2 separate regions of the Homo sapiens genome follow, and region 1 is linked to region 2. The links come from fine-mapping of genetic effects on gene expression. Tissue or cell type: whole blood. Region 2 holds a variant in brackets; the other region holds the start of a gene. All regions are shown on one strand. Distances are from middle to middle.

Region 1 (5,530 bases), 61 kb before region 2:
CTCTTGGAAAATCAGGAATCTGAGAGACTCACAGAAACTGCTGCTAATGATGCCAGCTGCCTGTGCTTTAGAGGTGATTTATAGAAGACAGGCAGCACTGCAAAACCTCACATTTGCATAAATTAAATCCACCAATTCTCACGTATCTGCCCCCTCTTCATGGCTAGAGAAGCAAGCATGCCTCTCCTTTTACCTTCCAAATCTAAGCAAGAACCTCTCCTTGGTTCATTATTCTCTCCTAGAATAATGATGGTAAAGAGTTACAGAAAATGCAGTTCTTAGGCTTTTAGAACCTCCAAAAAAAGAGGAGAGCATAGAAAAAGTGGAGATAGATGCTGATTGCAAAGACACCAGTGTTGCTCTTTTTAAGACTGGTATTTACTTGATTGCTGCTAAGGTTGAACGCTTTCCCTGTGCTTGCTTAGTATGTTTTCCATTTTATGGTAAACAATCAAAAAGCTGTTGTTTTAACAAAGTTCCATTTTTGTAGTGGAAGGAAAAAAAGCTTTATGGGTAGACTTGTGTTCTATATATACCTCGGGTGCTCTTGTTGAGGATAACTTAACTCAGGCTAGTAATAGACACTATAGTTCATGTGATACCCAAGCACACTGACCAGGAGGAATGCCACTGTTCCTAGTTACTGAGCAATTATCGCAAGCCAGTGCTTCACGCGCAATCGCATTTCATGTGTTTTATAGATGACGTGACAGATATAACATTTTTAACTATTTCCTTTTGCATTTCTCCACCTCCCAGCAGTTTAATTCCTTCCCTGGAAGCTTTTTTCCTATTCTAAGCTGGAGTGTGAGACTTGCTGTCTTGAGGAAGGGGCAGGAGGGATTCCATCTAGAACAAAGAAGGCCAGCTGTTAGGAAGAAGACTGAGATTAGGAAAGTCCCTACCAGAAGGAAAAGAAGGGGAACTCCTCCCCTTATGACTTGGTGAGGAAGTAAGAAAAAGAGGGAGAAGACAGGGGTTGAGATGCTAGAGTCCTGCCAACCCCACAGTCCTGAGGTCCAAATGCTGGGGTGGGGTGGGAATGGAGTTTAGGGATTCCTACAGCATAAGGGATCATGGCCTGTCTTCCCAGGGTGTTCATAGTCCACGACATCACAAAGAAACCATATTCAACCTGGCTTCTGAGCACTAGATCAGAAACAGTAAAGGAAATGAATGTCTTCAAAAACTGGTGACTGTGGTTAACCCTAAGGAAAGTAATGTCTGGGAGCCCTATAAATGAGACACTGAGACCTCTGAATTTTGTACCTGTAGATGCCCATGGCAGATAAATCACAAAAATATCCACAATTCTATACCCCCTCTTTGTATCCACACCTTTTGCAATTAGGCTTTGCAGTTCCCTAACAAGAGGCAAAGTCTATTTTCCATTCCTTGAATCTTGTCTGGTCTTGTAACTTGATGTGGCCAAAAGAATATGGCAGAAGTTTCCTTGTACCTTGCACTGTCTCTCAAAACTGCCCCTTTCATGAGAACAAGACTAAGTTAGTGTCCTGGAAGATGAGAGACCACATAGAGGACAGCTGAGGTACCTGGGTTAACAATCAGTCAACCGCAGTAACAAAGCCACCTAGCCAACCTGCAGCTGACCTCAAGTGCATGAACATTCCCAGCCAAAATCTGCTGAGATGAGAAGACCGAACCACCAAATGGAGCCCTGACTGAATTGTCAACCCACAAAATAGTAAATTAACTGAACATTTAGTTTTTAAGCTTCTAAATTTTGGGGTGCTTTGTTATGCAGCAATAGCTAACCAATACAATGCCTTGCCTATTAAAATAAAATTATTTGTAAGTAAAACTTTAGAAAAAAACAATAGCTGAGAAAGAAATCTGCATAGATGAGCAGGTGATTCAGAAATTCCCGTGTAAGAATGACATGGAAAGTACTGAGGGTCTGGTGGAATCATCTAGGCTTGTGGCCCTTTCAAAGAAGTTTCACTATATAGATCTCATTGACAGGAGAACAAGTAGAGGGAGTAATGGAATTGAGCAGGGGTATCAATGCAAGGCCTCAAAAGTCTAGAAAAGACCAGTCACAGACCCAGTGCAAAGTCCTTGGGGACCAGGCCAGACTAACCTCCTCATAGTAGACACCAGACCTCTGGGACCCAGGGGACATACTCAGATCCAAGGCCTGCCACCCTGTTGCTGGAGAATCTTCAGCTTCCTCTGCACCCAGAACCTTCTGAAGCATGAGGGAGGAAGTGAAATAATGAAAGGCTGAGTTGTTCTTGTACTTTTCCCTGAGTTAATTAAAAGACTGAGTTAACCTAAAAGACAATGGTGAAAGCCTATAGAGTGCTTACTCCACCCCACACATGCTACCACATTTTTATTCCTGTTTTACAGATGAGGAAACCGAGGCATAAAGTGGTCAAATGATTGTCCTAAGGTCACACAGCCAGACTGAGTAAAGCCAAGATTTGAACCCAGACAGTGTGGCTAAAGAGATTGCCTGGATTGCATGAATTGGCAAGATTAAGCTTTTCCTTCTTGATAGCCAGCACCAGGAGGCTCCTGAGGAAGTTCAGATCACTTACAGGAAACAAAGATGCCACAAACGCAAATGTTTGCACAATCTGAGTATGTTTCACTTGGACCCCAGGAAACAGAGGCTGAGAGAGTTACACATGATTATACTTTTAGGAATTAGGCCTGTACCCTCCCTGCAGTGCTAAAAGGAGGCCCCCATGGGGCTTGCTTTATAATAAATCCTTCTTCTTAAGCAATGTCACCTCCTCTACTTTCTGCACATCATGAATAATAATGGTTAATATGTTTAGCATTTACATTGTTCTGTGCCCTCACATTATTTCTCATAATCTTACCAAAACTGTTCTGAGGAGGGAACTGCCGTTGTTCCTACGCTGCAGATGAAGAAACAAAAGGCTCAGAAATGGGAAGTGACTTTGAAATCTTGCACAGCCAAGAAGAGGAAGATCCAATGTTTGCTCCAAATTCCACCCGATTCTGGAGTGCGTCCTATGACCTCAGTGCCCACCTCCCTCCCGGGCACCTAGGATGGAGCCTATGGCAAGGTTTTAGCACAGTGACTACAGGAATCACAGCCCAGACACAAAAGCAGGAAACCCTTTGACCGGGCTCCTTCCTATTGCACCAACAGCCTTGTGTTGCTGCAATGAAAACACTTCCCCAAGCAGCTGTGGCCAAGAGACGCAGAAACTGCCTTGTCCACGGGCCCCGCCTCAGACTCCAACACTCACAAGAGAGCAGAGGAGCCCCAAGTCTTGGGGACCACAGAAGATGCCATGTGCTCCACGATGTCGGCCCCCACCTGCCTGGCCCACTTGCCTCCCTGCTTCCTGCTGCTGGCACTGGTCCTTGTCCCCTCAGGTAAGTGGGGTCTAGGATAGAACAGGGTCCACCCCCGGCTGGTCAGTCCCTAGAGGGGCACTAAGTGCTCTGCCATGCCTGAAGAAGCTTGACCCCATGAAGATAGAGTAAAGAGGGGTCCACTGAAAATTTGCCTGACTCCGGCAGAGGGCACCCCCAGTGTCCCAAGAAGCAGCGTAGTGAAGTGATAAGCTCCCAGGCTCTGCGCTCACACCCACTGGCTTCCAGCTTGATTGCTCCTATGCCCACGTCAGATGCTGCAGCTCTTTTAGCCCCAGGAGCCTCTTCTACAAAACAGGGACGCTCATGGGACCTTTCTCTAGGGCTACTGTGAGTATTAAATAGAAAAGTGGTGAGGCTCAGCCCTGGGCCGGCTGCATAGTTTATGAGACCCACTGCAAAATGAAAACTGCGGTCTTTTGTTCAAAAAGTATTGAGCAACACAGCAGAGCAGTAAACCAAGCATGGGCTCCTTCTAAGCACAGGGCCCTGTGCGACTACATAGATGGCACAGCCATGAACCAGCCCTGGCTCAGCTTAAGACGCAGTAGGCTCAAACCTCACCACTAACCAGTTTAAGTAATTTCTTTCTGAGCCTCAGTTTTTCCAACTGTAAAATGGAGCTAAAAATAGGACCCACCTTGGGACTTTCTTAGGAGAATTTAACAAGATAATACCCATAAGTGCCTGGCATAACAAAGATTTGATAACTCTTGGCGATTATTATTATCATTCCCATGTTTCCTCTAACTCAGGGGCAGGCCAGGTTAGCTCCAGAGTCTTGAGACCCCTGAATATATAGCTCAGCCTCTGAGTCCAGAACTCTCTGATCTACCAGGCAGGGATACTTGGCTCTCAGTGGGCTCATTCCATCTCCTGCCCATCTGGGCCTCTGCTCCAGGCTCTACTGAGATCTAGATTCTGTCCATGACATCTTTGGTCCTCCGGGGTGGCCATCCCCAGGAGAGATCCTGGCAGAACCCAGGTGTGGGGTCGGACCTAGGTGCTCCCTTACTCATTGGCCGTATGACTCAAGACACCACTTCAATTCTCTAAGCTGATTTCCTCAATTCTAAGATGTGAATCATAATTGCTAGGTCTCATTCCACAGGTACTTTTGAGTGTCTGCTATGTTTTAGGCACTAGACTAGGAAATCAGAAATCTAAACTACTCAGAATAAAAAATATTCCCAATGATTGTTGCAATAGAATAGATGGAAAATAAGAGAAGTTGCTTAAACCAGTCAGTTGGAATGTTTGAGTCCAGCTGCATCTCAAGCTGAGTCAGGGCTGGTTCTTGGGTGTGCCCTCTATATAGTGGCACAGAGCCTCCTGCTTAGAAGGGCCCCATGCTTGGTTTAATGTTCTGCTGTGTTGCTCAATAGTTTTTGAACAAGGGACCTGCATTCCCGTTTTGCACTTGGCCTCACAAATTACGTAGCTGGCCCAGGATTGAGCCTCACCACTTCTCTATTTAATACTCACAGCAGCCCCGAGAAAAATATGAGTGCCCCTATTTTGCAGTAGAGGAGACTGGGGCTAACACATTTTCTATAAGGCTTTTAAAGGGAGCCCCATACAGGAACCATGAAAGGCAGAGGATGCAGATGGAAAATAGATGAGAAGGTCCAGCTCCACTGACAAGGCAGAGGCAAACCTCCTAGGACACCTCCTAAAGCCCAAGTGACAACACAGAAGGGGACTCAGAAGGGGAGAGGGAGGGAAGGGGTGTGGGCACCAGGACTGAGTCCAGGCTCCAGCTTCTTCCCTGGTGTTCACTTCCCCAGACTCACCCCTAGCTGAGATAAGACTTTCTGAGTGCTTCCTTCTTCCTCTCCTCCATTGCTTCTTTCTCCTCACACACGCAGGCTTCATCTTTACAAATAATTTATTTTTAACAGCTCTATTGAAGTGTAAGTGACATATATTAAACCGTACATATGTAAAGTACACAATTTGATAAGTTTTTTTTGTGAGTGCTGGGTGTATTTCACACTTGTGAAATCATCACCAAAATCAGCATCATGAACATATCCAGCGCCCAAAAGTTTCCTTGTGATTCGTCCTTGCCACTCCTCCTTGTCTCCAAAACAACCACGGATCTGTATTCTGTCACTATAGTTTGCATTTTCTAGAATTGTATATAATAAGG
Region 2 (7,744 bases):
AAACTGAGGGACAGGTTATTTAGAACTTCCTAGGAAAGGGGTGGTAACTTCCAGGTAATTACCATGACATTTGTAAACTGTCATGGTGCTTGTGGGAGTGTCATATGCTAATGAGCAATGAGGGCAGCTAGGGATCACTTTCCTCACCATCTGCTGGTTCCTGCGGTTTCTTCACTTTGTGTAGACCACATCCTGTTTTGGTCAGCAGGGTTGTGACCAGAAAATAAGTTCTGCCAGACTGCTGCCTCATAAGAGTTGTTATACATTTGGCCATATGAGTGAGTATTAACTGTTAACCATTTTCTAATTCATTTAATTTTTAAAATTATCATACAGTAAAATTAACTATGTTGTATATAATTATACAGATTTCAGCACACGTATAGATTCATGTAACCACCACTACAATCAGGACACAAAACAATTCCATCATCCCAGAACCTCCCTCATGCAATGCCTTGATAGTCACACTACCCCTCAAACCCAATCCCTGACAGCCACTGATCTCTTCTTCATCATTGTGGTTTTGTCTTTTCCAGAACATCATGTAAATGGAAGCATACAGCATTTAACCTTTGGAGACTGGCCTCTTAGCATAATTCCTCTGAGATTCATCTGGAGGAACAATTTTCATATGTTGTGCTTATGGAAAGTTCATTGTTTTTTCATTGCCAAGTAATAGTCCATGATATGAATGTGCAACAATCTGTCTATCTGTTCAACCATTAGAGGATATTTGGGTTGTTGCCAGTTTGGGGCAATTAGAAATAGAGCTGCTATAAACATTCATGTACAGGTTTTTCTGTGAACAAAATTTTCCTTTCTCTAGGGCAGCAGTCCCCAATCTTTTTGGCATCAGGGACAGGTTTCGTGGAAGACAATTTTTCCACAGACTTAGGGAGTAGGGCGGATGGTTTCGGGATGATTCAAGCACATTTACATTTATTGTGCATTTTATTTCTATTGTTATTACATTGTAATATATAATGAAATAATTATACAATTCACCGTAATGTAGAATCAGTGGGAGCCCTGAGCTTGTTTTCCTGCAACTGGATGGTCCCATCTTGGGGTGTTGGGAGACAGCGACAGATCATCAGGCATTAGATTCTCATGAGAAGCACACAGTCTAGATCCCCTACATGCACAGTTCACAATAGGGTTTGCACTTCTATGAGAATCTAATGCTGCTGCTGATCTGATCTGACAGGAGGTGGAGTTCAGGTGGCAAGCAGTGGGGCAAGGCTATAAATATAGATAAAGCTTTGCTCACTCACCAGCCTCTCACCTCCTCTGTGCGGCTGGTTCCTAACAGGCCATGGACTGATACTGGTTCATGACCTAGGTTTTGGGGACCTCTGCTCTAGGGTGAATACTCTAGAGATGTCTAGGGTCTGGGGTGGCTGGGTTATATGGTAAGTGTATGTTTAACTTTATTTAAAACTGTCAAATCATTTCCCAGAGTGGCTGTTGCACTGCACATTCCTGTCAGCAATATATGAGATTTTTGGGTGCTACTTAGCTTCACCAACACTTGGTATTGTCAGCATTTTTATTTTAGTCATTTTAATAGGTGTGTAGTTATCTCTTGTCATGGTTTTGACATTAGCATGTCTTGTGATGCTAATGATGCTGAACATCTTTTCATATGCCATTTGCCACCCATAAATCCTTTTTGATAAAGCATTTTTAAGAGTCCTTGCCGGCCAGGCATGGTGGCTCATGCCTGTAATCCCAGCACTTTGGGAAGCTGAGGTGGGCAGATCACAAGGTCAGGAGATCGAGACCATCCTGGCTAACATGGTGAAAACCCGTCTCTACTAAAAATACAAAAAATTAGCCGGGCGTGGTGGCGGGTGCCTGTAGTCCCAGCTACTTGGAGGGCTGAGGCAGGAGAATGGCGTGAACCCAGGAGGCGGAGCTTGCAGTGAGGCGAGATGGTGCCACTGCACTCCAGCCTAGGTGAGAGTGCAAGACTCCGTCTCCAAAAAAAAAAAAAAAAAGAGTCCTTGCCTTTTTGTTTATTGGATTATTTGTTTTCTTACTGTTGGATTTTGAGAATTCTTTACAAATTGTGATTACAAAAATATAAATGCAGAATATCTATGAGTCCACCGTTACCTTGATATCAAAGGTATGATTCTATGAGTCCACCGTTACCTTGATATCAAAGGCAGACAAAACGACTGTCCGGTATATCTTATGAATATAGACTCAAAAAATCCTCAACAAAATAGCAAACCAAATCCAGTAGCACATTCAAAGGATTATAGATCATGACCAAGTGGGATTTCTCCCAGAAATGCAAGGGTGGCTCAACATAAGAAAAAAAAAAATCCATCAATGTAACACAACTCTGTAAAGAGGGAAATGATATCACAATAGATACATTAAATGCATGCAACAAAATTCAACACTTCAAACACTTTCAGGATACAAACACTCACCAACAAATCAGAATACAGAGAACTTCCTTAACATGATAAAGGTCACTTACACAAAACCCACAACTCACATTATACTCAATGGTAAAAGAGCAGAAGCTTCCCCACTGAGCAGGAACAAGACAAGAATGCCCATTTTTACCACTACTATTAAATATTGTACTGGAAGTCCTAGCCAGAGCAGTTAGGCAAGAAAAAGCAATAAACAGCCTCCAAACTGGAAAGGAAGCAGTAAAGTTATCTCTATTTGAAGATGAAATAATTCTATGTATAGAAAATATAACAATACCAAAATGCACACAACTACTAGAGCCAATAAACAAATTCAACATAGTTGCAGATTGCAAGATCAGTGCACGAAAGTCCATTTTCTATGCATCAGCAATGAACAGTCTGAAAATGAAATTAAGTAACAATTCCATTTATAACAGCATCCAAAAGAGTAAAATACTTAAACCAAGGAGAAAGACTTCTATGCTGAAAACTACAAAACATTGCTGAAAGAAATTAAAGAAGACCTAAATAAATGGAAGACAACACATGTTGATGTATTGGAATATTAATTGCAAATGATCCACAGATTCAATGCAACCCCTATCAAAATTCCAATGGCATTTCCTAAGGAAATAGAAAAACTAATCCTCAAATTTATGTGGAACTGGAATGAACCCCAAGTAGTCAAAATACTATTGAAAAAGAAACACACCAAAAAAGAAAGAAAAAGAAACACAAAGTTTCAGGGCTCATGCTTCCAGATTTCCAAACATGCTCCAAACTTCTATAATCAAACCAGTGTGGTACTGACATAAGGACAGACATATACACCAGTGGAATATAATTGACAGCCTAGAAATAAATATCTATGGCTAATTGATTTTCAATAAGTGTTCAGCACAACTCAATGGGGAAAGAATAGTCTCTTCAACAAACAGTGCC[G/A]GGGCAACTGCATAATCACAGGCAAAAGAATGAAGCTGGACCCGTACCTCACTCCATACACAAAAATTAACTCAAAATGGATCAATGACCCAAATACAAGAGGAAAACATAGGGGTAAACTATTTAGAGAAAAACATAGGAGTAAATATTTATAACCTCAGACTTGGCAATGGATTCTTAGATTTGACACCAAAAGCATGAGCAACAAAAGGAAGAAATGGATAAATTAGACTTCATAAAAAGTAAAACCATTTGCACAATAAAATATATTATCTAGAAAGTAGAAACACAGCCCACAAAATGAGAGAAAGTATTTGCAAATAATGGACTTGTATCCAGAATATATAAAGAACACTTAAAACTCAACCACAAAAAAAAAAAAAAAAATTAAGAAATAGGCAAAGAACCTGAATAGACATATCTCCAGAGAAGACATACAAATGGCCAATAAGCACATGAAAGCATGTTCAGCATCATTTGTTACTAAAGAAATGCAAATGAAAACCACAGTGGGATACCACTTAACACCTGCAAGAGATAAACCACTTCACACCCGCTAGGATAACTATAATCAAAAACATGGAAAATAGCAAATGTTGATAAGGATATGGAGAAATAGAAACTTGTACACTGGGATCACACAATAGAGAACACTGTAGTAACATTTTGGTCTGCTCACAAGACCCAGAACATTTACCAGTTTTTGTTGTTGGTTTATTATTTTTCTGTTAAAAAAAATTGTGAAAAGTTTGTTTTAGCTGGATGATATTTTAATAGTTGCCAGTGCTTTGGAACTATGTAGATGTCACTACTTAACACATATACCTTATGTTTTGTTTTATTTTGTTTTACACTCAGTATAAATCAGGAACATTTAGCCAACCACCTAGCATTTAGAATCCTCTTTTTTATTGGCTTCTAAGGATATGGATGTTCCCATAACAGCAACAAAAACATTTTATAAATATCACTTGATAGACTTTAAGCACCTGCTTAACTCTGAATGTGTCCCAAATATTTAGTGTAGATAGATAGATAGATATTCAACAAATAAAGCAAAATATAACATGCATTTCACATTTTGTCTTTCCCTGTTACAATTTTAATAGCAGAACTGTATGACAAATTTAGGTGATCCTAGCATATGTTAAATTCAAATTAATGTAAAACAGATCAACAACAACAAAGAAACTCTATTTGAGCGAAGTCATGCTTTCTATTATAATAACTTGGCTTCGGTTATCCATCAAATGCACACTTACACTGTTGTCTGATTGTTTATAATAAAGAATACTGAACCTATAAAAGAAAAAAGAAACCCTTGTCACTGTTGGAAGTTGCTGTGGAAAACAATTTGGTGGCTCCTCAAAAAGCTAAACATAGAATTACATATGACCCAGAAATTCCACTCTTAGGAATTATATTAGTCAGAGTTCTCCAGAGAAACAGAACCAATGCAATACATATAGAGAAGATTTATTATGGGAATTGTTTCATGCAATTACAGAGGCCAAGAAGTCCCATGACATACTATTTACAAGCTGAAGAACCAGGAAAGATGGTGATGTAATTCAGTTGAAGTCTGAGAGCCTGAGAATCAGGGAAGCCAGTGGTGTAACTCCCACTCCAAGGCCTAAGGTCTGAGAATCTGGGGGTGGGAGGCTATTGATATAAGCCTTAGAGTCCAAAAGCCTGAGAACCAAGAGCTCCATTGTCTGAGAGCAGGAGAAGGTGATCCAGCTGAAAAAGAGAGAGAATTTGCACTTCCTCCACATTTTTGTTCTATTTTAATGGGCCTTCAACACCGAAGTTCATCCATGATGTCTGCCCACACTGGGGAGGATGATCTTCTTTACTCCATCCACTGATTCAAATACTAATCTAGAAAACACCCTCACAGACACACTCTGAAATAACGTTTTACCATAGATCTGGGTATCCCATAATCCAGTCAAATTAATGCATAAAGTTAAACATCCCAGATATATATTCAAAAGAATTGAAAACAGGTACTCAGATACTTGTACATCCATGTTTAATAGCAGCATTATTCAAAATACCCCAAAGGTGGAAACAACCCAAATGTCCAGCAATAAACAAGTGAATAAACAAATCGTGTACACATAAAATGGATTATTCAGAAACAAAAAAGTAATGAAGTATTGATAAATGCTATAATGGATAAACTTCCATGTTGTAAGGAATTTGGCCTCACTCAAAGAAATGTCTAGAATTTCCAACATGACAGGAGTGTCCTCTTTATTCCTGTTGAGTCACTGGGACCACACCTGATAGTTTATGTTGATGAGATTATTCATAACGCCACTCACACCTGATAGTCTTAGGGTGGAGGGGCTGGCCACACCAGAAAAACCAAACATAGAATTTACTGTGAGAGCTTTCAACCCAACCTCCAGGGTTGGGGTGGAGTGGGCTGAAGATTGAGTTTAATCAATCATGCCCATGTAGTGAAGCCTCATTAAAAACTCTAGATACCAAAGTTCAGGTGAGCTTCCCTGGTTGGCAATACTCTGTGCATGTTATCACACATCATGGTCACGAGGAAGTAACTGTCCATGACCCTGGGGAGAGGACACCGGACACTCCCCATTTAGACCCCTCCCAACTCCATCCTATGCATCTCTTCCTCTGGCTGGTTCTAATTTGTATATTTTTGTTGTAATAAACATAGACGTACATATAATAGGTTTCAGCGAGTCTTTCTGGTGAATTATACAACCTGAGGGTGGTTTTAGGAACCCCTTGAACTTGAAATTTGTGTCAGAGTCTTGGGAGTCAAATTTGGTGGTCTGGAAGACCCTACCTTAGCACAATGTTTTTGAGGTTACCTGCAGTTTGGCTAACTCTAGGTAACCTCAAAACCATTATGCTAAGTGAAAACTCAGACACAAGAGTCACATACTATGACAGCTACATGTTATATAAAATATCCAGAATAGGTAAATCCATAGAGAGAGAAAGCTGATTGATGGTTGCTGGGTGCTGTGTGGAAGGGACAATGGGAAGTACTGCTTAATGGATACTAGGCTTTATTTTGGGTTGACGAAAATATTTAGAACTAGATAGAGGTACTGGTTACACAACATTGAACATACTAAACGCCCTGTTAAAATGATTAATTTTATGTTACTTGATTTTTTTGTGTGTGTGTGACGGAGTCTCACTCTGTCACCCAGGCTAGAGTGCAGTGGTGCGATCTTGGCTCACTGCAACCTCCACCCTCCAAGTTCAAGCGATTCTCCTGCCTCAGCCTCCCAAGTAGCTGGGATTACAGGCACCTGCCACTGCGCCCGGCTAATTTTTTGTATTTTTAGTAGAGACGGGGTTTCACTATCTTGGCCAGGCTGGTCTTGAACTCCTGACCTCATGATCCACCCGCCTCGGCCTCCCAAAGTGCTGGGATAACAGGCGTGAGCCACCGCGCCCGGCCTGTTACTTGAATTTTATCTCAAGAAAAAGAGAATATCTACCCTTACTCATTTGAGTATTTTTGTAGTAATTTCTTCAAAAGGTATCAGATAACCCCAACATCTGTGTCATCTAGGAGTGGGCATCTGTTGATGTCTTCTCCCAGGAGAGTTGACATTTTCCTGGATCTTCACAAGCTGAGTAGTTTGGGATTGTAACCTGAACGTTTTCTGTATTATATTTTGAGGCTCTGGGTCTTATTTAAGTTCTATGGGAAACATTTATATCTTGTGTTTTGGCTGGCAGTCAACCTGGTCAGGTTCAGGCCTCAAGTCCCAACCTTCTGTGTGTGGTGGTTCCAATGTCAGCTCAGTCTGCAAAGCCTTTGCTGACTGTCTGGTACCCTGTGTGCACTACCCAGCAGGGAGTCTGGGACCTGAGCATGTGGCCTGTTAGCACATTTCTCAGAGCCTTTATATGGTGATTACAATCAGATCCACACATGTGCAATTGGAGAGTGCCTCAAGGAGTTCGTAAACAATGTAATGGGGTTGCTTTCACAAGCTCCTCCCTTTTTACAATCTCCCTGGTACTTTCCTGTTTCCTGGGGCTCCCTTTTCACGCTCCCAGCCAGAAAGCTAAAGCTGCAGCATCCCGCTGTGCTGCACTCTTCATGGCAGGGCCAGGTGGTGGGAGCACAAAGAAGAAAAAGCAACAGGGGTTTGCTCCCTTCCTTTTGGGATCACAACTCTGCTGATGCATGAAGAACATTCTCCTCCCTCTGAGTTTCAGCTCCTGCAGGTTCCCAATGCTTTGAGGCCTCTGTCATTCCTGCCAGGGACTCCCTGGTGGCTGGGGCATAGGAGAGCAGGAAGAAGAAAGAAACTCAGGGCAGGAGAGTGGCATTAGAAATTCCTGGTCCTTAAGCCAGCACT

What was found. PIP is the estimated chance that this variant, and not a neighbour inherited with it, causes the effect.
Region 1: it holds the start of SIRPB2, and the variant in region 2 is fine-mapped to the expression of SIRPB2 in whole blood (INTERVAL, PIP above 0.99).

Annotation. Positions count from the first base shown.
Region 1 is chr20:1,489,123-1,494,652 of GRCh38, reverse strand. SIRPB2 (signal regulatory protein beta 2) reads left to right here and starts at 3,233. Exons shown (of 5, transcript NM_001122962.2): 1 at 3,233-3,378. The coding sequence starts at 3,294.
Region 2 is chr20:1,427,492-1,435,235 of GRCh38, reverse strand. No RefSeq gene overlaps it. Among named protein-coding and RNA genes, the nearest start is that of NSFL1C, 35 kb to the left of the region's middle. RefSeq lists an enhancer at 7,012-7,744. The variant G/A (reference allele first, on the strand shown) is at 3,381.